Linked DNA regions of Homo sapiens: region 2 is linked to region 1. The links come from fine-mapping of genetic effects on gene expression. Tissue or cell type: sun-exposed skin. Region 1 holds a variant in brackets; the other region holds the start of a gene. All regions are shown on one strand. Distances are between the middles of the regions.

The links. PIP is the estimated chance that this variant, and not a neighbour inherited with it, causes the effect.
Region 2: it holds the start of FAM47E, and the variant in region 1 is fine-mapped to the expression of FAM47E in sun-exposed skin (GTEx, PIP 0.93).

What each region holds. Positions count from the first base shown.
Region 1 is chr4:76,220,059-76,225,329 of GRCh38, forward strand. It overlaps a transcript of SCARB2 not described here and a transcript of FAM47E not described here. Among named protein-coding and RNA genes, the nearest start is that of SCARB2, 8.9 kb to the left of the region's middle. The variant A/G (reference allele first, on the strand shown) is at 3,048.
Region 2 is chr4:76,248,535-76,253,805 of GRCh38, forward strand. It overlaps FAM47E (family with sequence similarity 47 member E), which reads left to right and starts at 3,187. Exons shown (of 8, transcript NM_001136570.3): 1 at 3,187-3,286. The coding sequence starts at 3,213. FAM47E-STBD1 (FAM47E-STBD1 readthrough) reads left to right here and starts at 3,187. Exons shown (of 7, transcript NM_001242939.2): 1 at 3,187-3,286. The coding sequence starts at 3,213. It overlaps LOC105377286 (a long non-coding RNA gene), which reads right to left and starts at 3,143. Exons shown (of 3, transcript XR_938897.4): 1 at 2,574-3,143.

The DNA of each region.
Region 1 (5,271 bases):
CTCCATTTTGAATCAAACCAGAGGAGATAGAGATGCAAATCACAGTTCTTTAAAAAGTTAAACAGAATTATCATATGACCTAGCAACTCTCTTCCTAGGTATATAACCCCCAAAATTGAAGACAGGTACTCAAACAAATACTTGTAAACCAGTGTTCATAGCAGCATTGTTCACAATAGTCAAAAGGTGGAACCGACCCAAATGTCATCAGACAATAATAGATACACAAAATATGTTATAGACATACAGTGGAAAATACTATTCAGCTATAAAAAGGAAAGAAATAGGCTGGGTGTGGTGGCTCATACCTGTAATACCAGTATTTTGGGAGACTGAGGCAGGAGGATTGCTTGGGACCAGGAGTTCAAGACTAGCCTGGGCATCATAGCAAGACCCTATCTCTATAGAAAAATTAAAAATTAGATGGGCACGGTGGCATGCACCTATAGTCCCAGCTTACTTATGAGGTGAGATAGGAGGATTCCTCGAGTCCAGGAGTTCAAGGCTGCAGTGAGCTGATTGTGCCACTGTACTCCAGCCTGTGACAGAGCTAGATCCTGTCTCTTAAAGAAAGAATGAAGTCCTGATACATGCTACTACAGTGCAGACTTCTTTTCTTTTCTTTCTCATCTGCCATTTCTGATGTGAGTAATGGTCCCTCTTAGAATATGATCTTTTTAAAAATCAGTGATGGGAAAAGAATTCTAGAAAGTTCTGGCAGTTTTTTACCCAGGGAGAAATAAAAGGGATAACCAGTCATAGGTACATTTTCTGTTACATAAGAAGCAAGATTGTACAAGAATGCTTCCAGGTGCTCACCTGGGATCAGCTGGGACCACAGGGGTTTCTTCATTCTCTCAGCGGAGTCAGTACACACACTCAGCTTCCCCTGGGGATGGCAGCTTCCTCCTGGTCCTCTTTATTTCCCCATGGGAAACTGTACAACTCACAGGCCCCAAGGTCCCTCACTGATTCCTAATCAACTCCTGTAAAGAGTCAGCTCCCTAAGTCCAGACTGCCTGGCACCATGCAATCTGTATATTCCCTTATGAACAAGGCCACTTTCCCATACCTGCCCACAGGAAGAAAAACCCATTGTGGCAGGGGAAGGGGACAGGCTTTCTCCTCTGGAACCGAATCATACAGCCCAGCAGCCTTCACCTGCTTCACTAATGGTAAGCTTGGGCGACCACTGCCTCACTGGTCCTGGCCTGGGGAGTTTTTCTTTTCCCCACTAAAGCCTATTCCCCATTACTCCTCTTTTGTTTGGCATGGGGGAGATGAAGTTTCGCTCTTGTTGCTCAGGATGGAGTGCAGTGGTGCAATCTCAGCTCACTGCAACCTCTGCCTCCTGGGTTCAAGCGGTTCTCCTGCCTCAGCCTCCCGAGTAGCTGGGATTACAGGCACCTGGTACCACATCTGCCTAATTTTTTGTATTTTTAGCAGAGACGGGATTTCATCACACTGGCCAGGCTGGTCTTGAACTCCTGACCTCAGGTGATCCATCCGCCTTGGCTTTCTAAAGTGCTGGGATTACAGGCATGAGCCACCGCACCCGGCCTATTCCCCATTATTTCAAGCGAACTACTGCAAAAACAGAGAAAAAATACCGCATGTTATCACTTATTAGCTAAAGAGCTAAGCATCAAACACACACGGACACAAAGATGGGAACAATTGACACTGGAGACTACTTGAAGGAGGACGTGGGTGAGGAGTATAGGTTGAAAACCTACCTATTGGGTATCATGCTCACTACCTGGGTGACAGGATCCTTCGCACACCAAACCTCAGCGACACCCAGTTTACCTGTGTAACAAACTTGCACATGTACCACCTGAACCTAAAATAAAAATCAAAGGAAAAAAATGCGTATTCCTTAATCTATGCCACATGATGTTGTGGAATTCATCCCAAACTCTTTAACAATAGGTGACTACCATGAAGGGATCCACCTGGTATACTAATATCTCTATATGAAACAACAAAAAGAAACTGCACATTTAAGAATGAGGCCTACACAGAATTTCAGGGAGGCTGGGCAGGCCCAATCCTTTATCTGAAGAAAAATCTCAATATTCAGTGGTACAAAATACTACTTTTAAATTCAGTCTCCAATCCTTCCAGTGTCCAATTCATGAACATCTGGGCATCATATTTCCTATCTTCTTTTTTTTTTTTTTTCTGAGACCGAGTCTCACTCTGTTGCCCAGGCTGGAGTGCAGTGGTGTGATCTCAGCTCACTGCAACCTTGGCCTTCTGGGTTCAAGCAATCCTCGTGCCTTGGCCTCCCCAGTAGCTGGGACTATAGGCGTGAGCCACCATGCCCAGCTAATTTTTGTATTTTTTAGTACAGACGGGGTTTCACCATGTTGGCCAGGCCAGTCTCAAACTCCTGACTTCAGGTGATCCACCTGCCTCGGCCTTCCAAAGTGCTGGGATTACAGGCATGAGCCACCGTGCCCGGCCTTTTTCCTATCTTCTCCTTAGTCCTTAACTCTCCGCTGCCTCCACCAGCCCTGTCCTAGAGGAGCCTCTCAAGTTCCGGGTAATCATCAGAGGAGGGTTTTGGTCCTTCACATTCTTTCAGAGTCAACAGCACAAACCCATCCTTTGCTTGTCACTGTTGAAGTTCTCTCAAACTCTATTTACTATGTCTGAGCAAAAGGTAAATATTACTTGCTATATGCCAAGCTCTGTTCTAAGGACTTCACATCTATTAATTTTTCAAAGGTCTGGGTAGGGGAAGAAGACCCTGGTCATGGATATTTCTACCATGGAGGACTAGTAAGCCCCAGCTGAGCGCCTAGTTTAAGTCTTGGTCAGGCAAGAGTTCCAAGCTGAAGCTCAGAAGAAAGGCAGGGGGGGAAGAGGCCCAGGTGAAGCCTCGTGCATGGGAATCGACCATGTAGGTGTAAGAATTCTCTGGCAGGATCAGACCTTGACAGGTGGATGCATCAGACTAATGATAATTGCACACCCCTTCAAAGCCATATTTTTGTTCAATATCAAAGGTAAGGCTTTGTGGGGGCTGGTAGCAGATGTCA[A/G]CCTCTTGTCAATCCAGCTCTGGGGGCATGTTTGTACACCATTCAGTAAAACAGTCCTCCAGGTGTTAATGAAAACTACCTTCCTTGGAAGTACTTTATTTTAACCTCAGCTCATTTCTGCAAGTGGCTTAACCAAGTGTTCCCTCCAAACACATACAGTGCTTGGCCTGTGAAAGGCTTTGGGAGACAGAATTGTCTCCTTCTTGGTAGATTTCCAGTGAGTTTTGGGTAATCTGCATCCTGGGGAGTGGTACAGTAGCCCACCCCTTATTGGGTCCTACTTAGCCAGAAGTCTAACTTTGAGAATTCATCAAAATTTGGCTGGGTACTGTGAGAAGACAGCAGAATCCTGTATAATCCAGAATCAGAATCAGAATGTGATGTGCATCACAATATTATCACAGTTGTCTTTATTATCACCGCCCTCTTCCTCTAATCCCTTGCTACTCAAAGTGTGATCCCAAGACGTTGCATTGGAACCACCTAGGAGCTTGTTAGAAATAGAGACTCTCAGGCCCTGGTCTGGGCCAACTAAACAAAATTTGCATTTGAACAAGAACAACCTATGACCCATGAGTAGAGTAAAGTGTGAGAAGCATAGCAGGTTAGTCCATAGTCCCTCAAGGCCCAGTCACAAGTGTGCTTTTCCATAACCCTTCTTCAGGGGACCTCAAAACTGGTATTTGGACTCTCCACTCTCCACCTCACTAAAAGGAGAGTGTCCCTGGCCTGCTTTCCACCCTCAGAGTGAGTCTCCCTGGACTATTGAAGATCACTATGTCTTGGGACATTCAGGCTTGATCTTTGGGCTGCTACCCTATCCCTGAGCGATGTGTGACACAGTCATGCTGTCTTCCCAGGTTCTGATGATGTTGGGGGAATGTAATTAAAAATAAAATCTCCTGCCAAACCAGGAGACCTCCCCACAAACACAGAAGGGAAAGACAATTTATTATTGAATAGGTATTAAACCAGAATGTGACGTGCATCACAGGCAATCTGCTGAAGAGATTGCAGATTGCAAAGTCAGAAAGAAATCTTACCCTTTCCTATATCTAGGCAGATACAGTCCATTACATACATGTTTTCAGGTAGAAGACTTGACAGCACCATTGTCACACATAGTTCATCCGAAATTCACGGGATAATTGGGCTGGCCATCTGTGTTAATTGCCTTTATCCGAAGGAAAAATAAAACTTCTCATATCTTTATGACAGGAGGTAGTTTTGCAACTTAGAGCCAGGCACCTTAGAGTTAGGCTCCTGCCCTCCCACAGAAATGGAGAGAGGAGGGGCTGTCTTTCTTGATGATTACACTTCAAAGGGTTCACTCCCAAGTCCTTAAGAAAAACATTCCTGTGTTGTAAAGGTGGCAGGAGACTTTTTTAAAGCTTTTAAGAAGATGTTCATACATCTTAAAAGGGCAGAGAAAGAATAAACAATTATAACTTTTTAAAAAATCCTTTTTATTTTATTGAGACAGGATCTCACTCTGTCACTCAGGCAGAGTGCAGTGGCATGATTTTGGTTCACTGCAACCTCTGCCTCCCAGACTCAAGCAATTCTCCCAGGTCAGTCTTCCAAGTAACTGGGACTACAGATGCAAGCCACTAGGCCCAGCTAATTTTTGTTATTTTATTTTATTTATTTATTTTTAATTTCAGAAGTTTTTGGGGAACAGGTGGTGTTTGGTTGCATGGAAAAGTTCTTTAGTGGAGATTTCTGAGATTTTGGTGCACACATCACCCAAGCAGTAAACACGGTATCCAATGTGTAGTCTTTTATCCCTCACCCGCCTCCTACCCTTCCCCCCAAGTCCCCAGAGTCCATTATATCATTCTTATAGGCATAAGAATGATATAATGCATCCTCATAGCTTAGCATCTTATATGCATCCTCATAGCTTAGCTCCCACTTGTGAGAAGATACAATGTTTGGTTTTCTATTCCTGAGTTACTTCACTTAGAATAATGATCTCCAACTCCACCCAGGTTGCTGCAAATGCTATTATTTTGCTCCTTTTTATGGCTGAGTAGTATTCCATAGTAAATATATATACCACATTTTCTTTATCCACTCGCACTCGTTGGCACTTGAGCTGGTTCCATATTTTTCCAGTTGTGTATTGTGCTGCTATAAAGACACATGTGCAAGTGTCTTTTTCATATGATTTCTTTTCCTCTGGGTAGATAGAGTCTTCAGCATTTTCTAGGTATATGATCAT
Region 2 (5,271 bases), 28 kb after region 1:
CCTGACACACATTATATACTCATTCAACAACTATTGATTTGTTATATACCATACTAGGCACTGGAGATGCAATGGAGAAGAAAACAGACCTGATCCTCGTCACCTTGGTACTTTGTTGCTAGTGTTTGCTGAATAAATAAATAAGAAACCATCTATTTTCATGACATCTGCATCATCACAAGTTGATAATTGCTCTATATGGTAATTTTGACTCCATACATTGCATACCATAATTGTAGTCATTACTTAGAGAATCTCTCAGTCTCTCTCTCTCTCTCTCTCAACTCAAAGGTGAAATGTATTAAATACAGTAATCAAGTGAGTATATGTTATTTAAGAATGAGGTTGGTGATTTTCCAGGTGTTTATTTCTAGACTTTTTGCCAGGTAAGCTGGCCATTTCATTCCCAAAAGGATTATTCAAATATATAAAATAGTATTTTCAAACACTATTATATATTCCAGAAAAACAAGCATTTGAATAACAAAAACAATAGAACTTAGCAAACATGGTGAAACTCCCATCTCTATTAAAAATACAAAAATTAGCCCGGCATGGTGGTACGTGCCTGTAATCCTAGCTACTCGGGAAGCTGAGGCAGGAGGATCGCTTGAACCCAGGAGGTGGAGGTTGCAGTGAGCTGAGATCACACCACTGCACACCAGCCTGGGCAACAGAGTGAGACTCTGTCTCAAAAAAGAAAACAAAACAAAACAAAAAAATAGAACTTTAAGGTGAGAAATGGGAAAGCAGTCCTGAATTGGTAGAAACCCTAGGCATATGGACAAATTGTTTATTTATTATTTGTTTGTTTATTTAAGAGTGATAATTTGCCAACATATTATTTTGCTAAATATTTTTAAAAGGATTATTGCAGCTGTAGAAAATATATAGAAAGCCATCTTAGGAAACTCTACCTCTTGCTTGCTGATATATAAATTGTAGTCAGCTTTTTCTTCTTTTTGTCACAACCTTTGGAGATTCCGGTAAAATGCCTCCTTCAGAATATTTCTGGGCATCCGTTATTTGTTTATTTATTTATTTTTTTTTTGGTTACATGAGTAAGTTCTCCAGTGGCAATTTCTGAGATTTTGGTGCACCCATCACCCAAGCAGTGTACCCTGTACCCAATGTGTAGTCTTTTATCTCTTGTCCCCGTCCTATCCTTCCCCCCAAGTTCCCAAAGTCCATTTTATCATTCTTACACCTTTGCATCCCCATAGCTTAGCTCCTACTTATGAGTGAGAATGTACAATGTTTGGTTTTCCATTCCTTAGTTACTTCAGTTAGAATAATGGTCTCCAGTTCCATCCAAGTTGCTACTAATGCCATTATTTCATTCCTTTTTATGGCTGAATGTTATTCCATTATATATATGTGTATATATACACATATATACCACAATTTCTCTATCCACTCATCGATTGATGGGCATTTGGGCTGGTTCCATAGTTTTGCAACTGCAAATTGTGCTGCTATTAACATGTGTGTGCAAGTATCTTTTTTGTATAATGACTTTTCTTCCTCTGGGTAGATACCCAGGTAGTGGGACTGCTGGATGAAATGGTAGATCCACTTTTAGTTCTTTAAGGAATCTCCACACTGTTTTCCATAGTGGTTTTACTAGTTTACATTCCCACCAGCAGCGTAAAAGTGTTCTCTTTTCCCCACATCCACACCAACATCTAATTTTTTAAATTTTTTGATTATGGCCAGTTTTGCTGGAGTAAGGTGGTATTACATTGTGGTTTTGATTTGCATTTCCCTTATAATTAGTGATATCTAGCCTTTTTTCATATGTTTGTTCACCATTTTTATATCTTCTTTTGAGAATTGTCTATTCATGTCCTTAGCCCATTTGTTGATGGGATTGCTTGTTTTTTTCTTGCTGGCTTGTTTGAGTTCCTTGTAGATTCTGAATATTAGTCCTTTGTTGGATATATAGATTGCAAAGATTTTTCCCACTCTGTGGGCTGTTTACTCTGCTGATTATTTCTTTTGCTGTGTAGAAGCTTTTTAGTTTAATCAAGCATTGTTTGGGCAAATTGTTACAAATCATTCCTGCAGGACTCCATTCAGCCTAGATAACCATACTTTTGGCCCAGTTCTCACAGAATTTCTACAGAAACCCTACCTCCTCAAAGTAATAAAAAGTTTGCATTACAATCGGACTAATATCAAAGAAAATAAAAATAACAATTGGGCTAATTATAATGATTACCTACATAGCTTTCTCCATTAACTAACTCACAACAGCTCTGTTAAGTAGTCAGGACAAATATTACCACCCCCGGTTCACAGCTGGAATAATAGTACTTGCATAATAATAATTCTTGAGGGATTCTTAAATGCTGGCACTGTGTTAATTTCTTTATATTCATCGAATATCCCCAATAACCCTACAGGTAGATACTATTATTTTCCCCATTTTCAGGCCAGGTAATTAATGAAGCTTAAAAATGTAAGTACCCTGCCCCCAGGAGTGCATAATTATTAAGTAGCAGAACCAATGCTTATATTTAAATCAGAAACACTCAGAAGTAGCATAAGAATTTAGTAAAAACGAAACACACCCTCGTGCAATCCGTATTATGTGGCCACGTGCCTACCAGGGTCAGCTGGATGGTACTTGTCTGCTAGAAGTGAGTCGAGGCAGAAGAATCAACACAGGAGCTGGAAGGGCCTCTGGAAATCAGCTGGGGACTAGAGACAGGTGTGCAGCCCTCGGTTTACAGAGGCTGTGAGACCAAGAGAGTTCCAAGACCTCCAGGAAAACATCTCCCTGCTAAAAGGCTTTCCCAACCTTTAGAAATCTATTCATTTTCCCCACTTTCCATCCTCTTTCTCTTGCTATCTCTTTATCGCTCCTCCTGCCTTCTTCCTTTCTTTCCTTCAGTAAACGTTTTTTGAAACGATGATGAGCAAAAAACGCCTGATCCAGTCTATGGCGCGTTTCGGTGGGAAGATGAACACGCCTTCCCAGCAGAGTAAAACGTGATTACACCAAGGACCGGTACCCTCTCCCTTCCCTCGGCCAGGTCCACGTCCCCAGGCGTCGGAGAAGGGGTTGGACCGCGCAGCGGGGCGTCAGAGTTGCCAGGCGCCCGGGGCAAATACCGGCAGCGGTGGTTGTGCGGTGTCCTAGCAACGGGGCGGCAGCAGGGCACACACACCGCCCAAGCCCGGACGGTGGCCGCGAAGCTAGGGCCACCATGGCGGACCGCAGGCGGCGGCTCCGGCCGGGGACGTTGGCCCCGGTGCGCGAGGGCGTGAACTGCAGGTCCAGGTAAACACTCAGCGCCCGGGCCGAGGGCGCATCCCACGCGGGCCGCGCGGGGGCGCCTGGAGACCCGCGCTTGCTGGGGCGGGGGCGAGGGGAGAGGTCCAGCCTGCCTTCCCTCCTCAATGCTTCCTGTACGTACAACATAATACGCTGAGATAACCAACGCTTGGCGCTGCTCTTTGCAAAGGATTTTTCCTGCTGTCATCCTCACAACCCCCGCCTCCCACGCCCCCAGGGATGTAGACTAATATCCCCATTTCTGATGGGAAAGTGATGGCCGCAGAGTCCGCTGCGGAGGCTGGTGCCCTCCTGCTAGCCACCCACCCTTTTCCGGCCTAGCCAACCAACTGTTCGCCAGATGCCCCGGGGCGCCTGGAGCCCTGTATCCGATGTTAGGCATCTGCTGCCCCTGGAGCCTTTGGTATCCAGATGGCGGCTGTGGCCAAGTGGAGCCCAGGGTTGGGGGAGCGCCTGGGGTGCTAGGGAGGTCTGCTAACATTTTGTACGGTTGTGGTAGCCTCAGAGCAGGAACAAGAAGGTTTTTGCCTTTACCGACTCCTTGACAATCTTTTGAGAATGGAATTCGTCTGTCTTGGAGACAGCACGATGTGGTGGTGAAGATTCCAAAGTCTAGAATCAGAAAGGCTTGAGTAGAAGGCTAGTTCTCCTCTTGTTTGCCTGGTGACCTTAGGCAAGTTGGTTGCTCCTTCTGGGCTCACTTTCCTAACTATAAAATGGGGCAATAACTTAGGAATCAGCTTTCTAAGATTGTCGTGAGGATTAATGGAGATAGCACATGTAAAGTTGTCACTGGCACATAGAACGTATCGTGTACATGTTAGCAATTATTCATAGTTGTTTCTAGCAGTTATTCATAAGAGCTTCTTTGGGAAGCTTCTCCCCCCCATTTAAAAATTTTGTTTTGAAATAACTGTAGGCTCACCAGAAGTTGCAGAAATAGTACAGAGGTCCCATGTACCCTTCCCCTAGCTGCTTACAGTGGTACCATTTTACATAACGATAGCACATTGCCAAACCAGGAAACGTCATTGGCAGAATATGCTAATTGAACTAGAGACCTTACTTGGATTTTATCAGCTCTTACTTGCACTCAGGTGTGTGAGTTCTGTAACATTTGGTCATATGTATACATAAAGATACAAAACTGTTCCTTCCCCACAGAGGAACTCTTAGTATTACCCCTTTGCTGTCACTTCTTTTCCCACCCCAGCCTTGTCAATCGCTAAGCTGCTCTCCATTTCTGTAAGTTAGTTCTTTTGAGAATGTTAGATAAACAGAATAATACAGTATGTAACTGTTTGAGACTGGCTCTTTTTCACTCATCATAAAGCCTCTGAGATCCATCCAAGTTGTGTGTATCAGTAGTTCATTTTTGTTGCTGAGTCGTGTTCCTTGGTGTGGATGTACCACAGTTTGTTTATCCATTCACTTGTTGAAGGACATTCAGGTTGTTTTGGACATTCCAGTTTTGGGGCTAATATGTAGAAAGCTGCTATCGACATTTGTGTACAGAATTTTCTGAGAACATACTTTTTCATTTCTTTAGGATACATGTCCGGTATCCTTTTGCAATTCTTAAAGAGGGAAATATCCATATATCATGTACTAGTGTCTGTGAAAACAGTAAATATTTAGAAAAATTGTTTCCAGTTTTATTTTATGGGCCAAGCAAGATTTTTCCTGAACCTAACATAATGCAGAATGGTAAGCTTATTAACTATGAGAGGCCATGTGGGGGAGAGGAAAGCCCTCCCTTTACACTGGTTGCCTTACTCTCCTCTTGGAACTTAGTTTCCTTATTAAAAAGAGGAAAGCGGTAGCCAGGCATGGTGGCACATGCCTGTAGTCCCAGCTACTCAAGAGGCTGAGGTGGAGGGATTACTTGAGTCTGAGAGGCAGAGGTTGCAGTGAGCCAAGATTACACCATTGCACTCCAGCCTGGGTAACAGAGTGGAACCCTGTCTCGA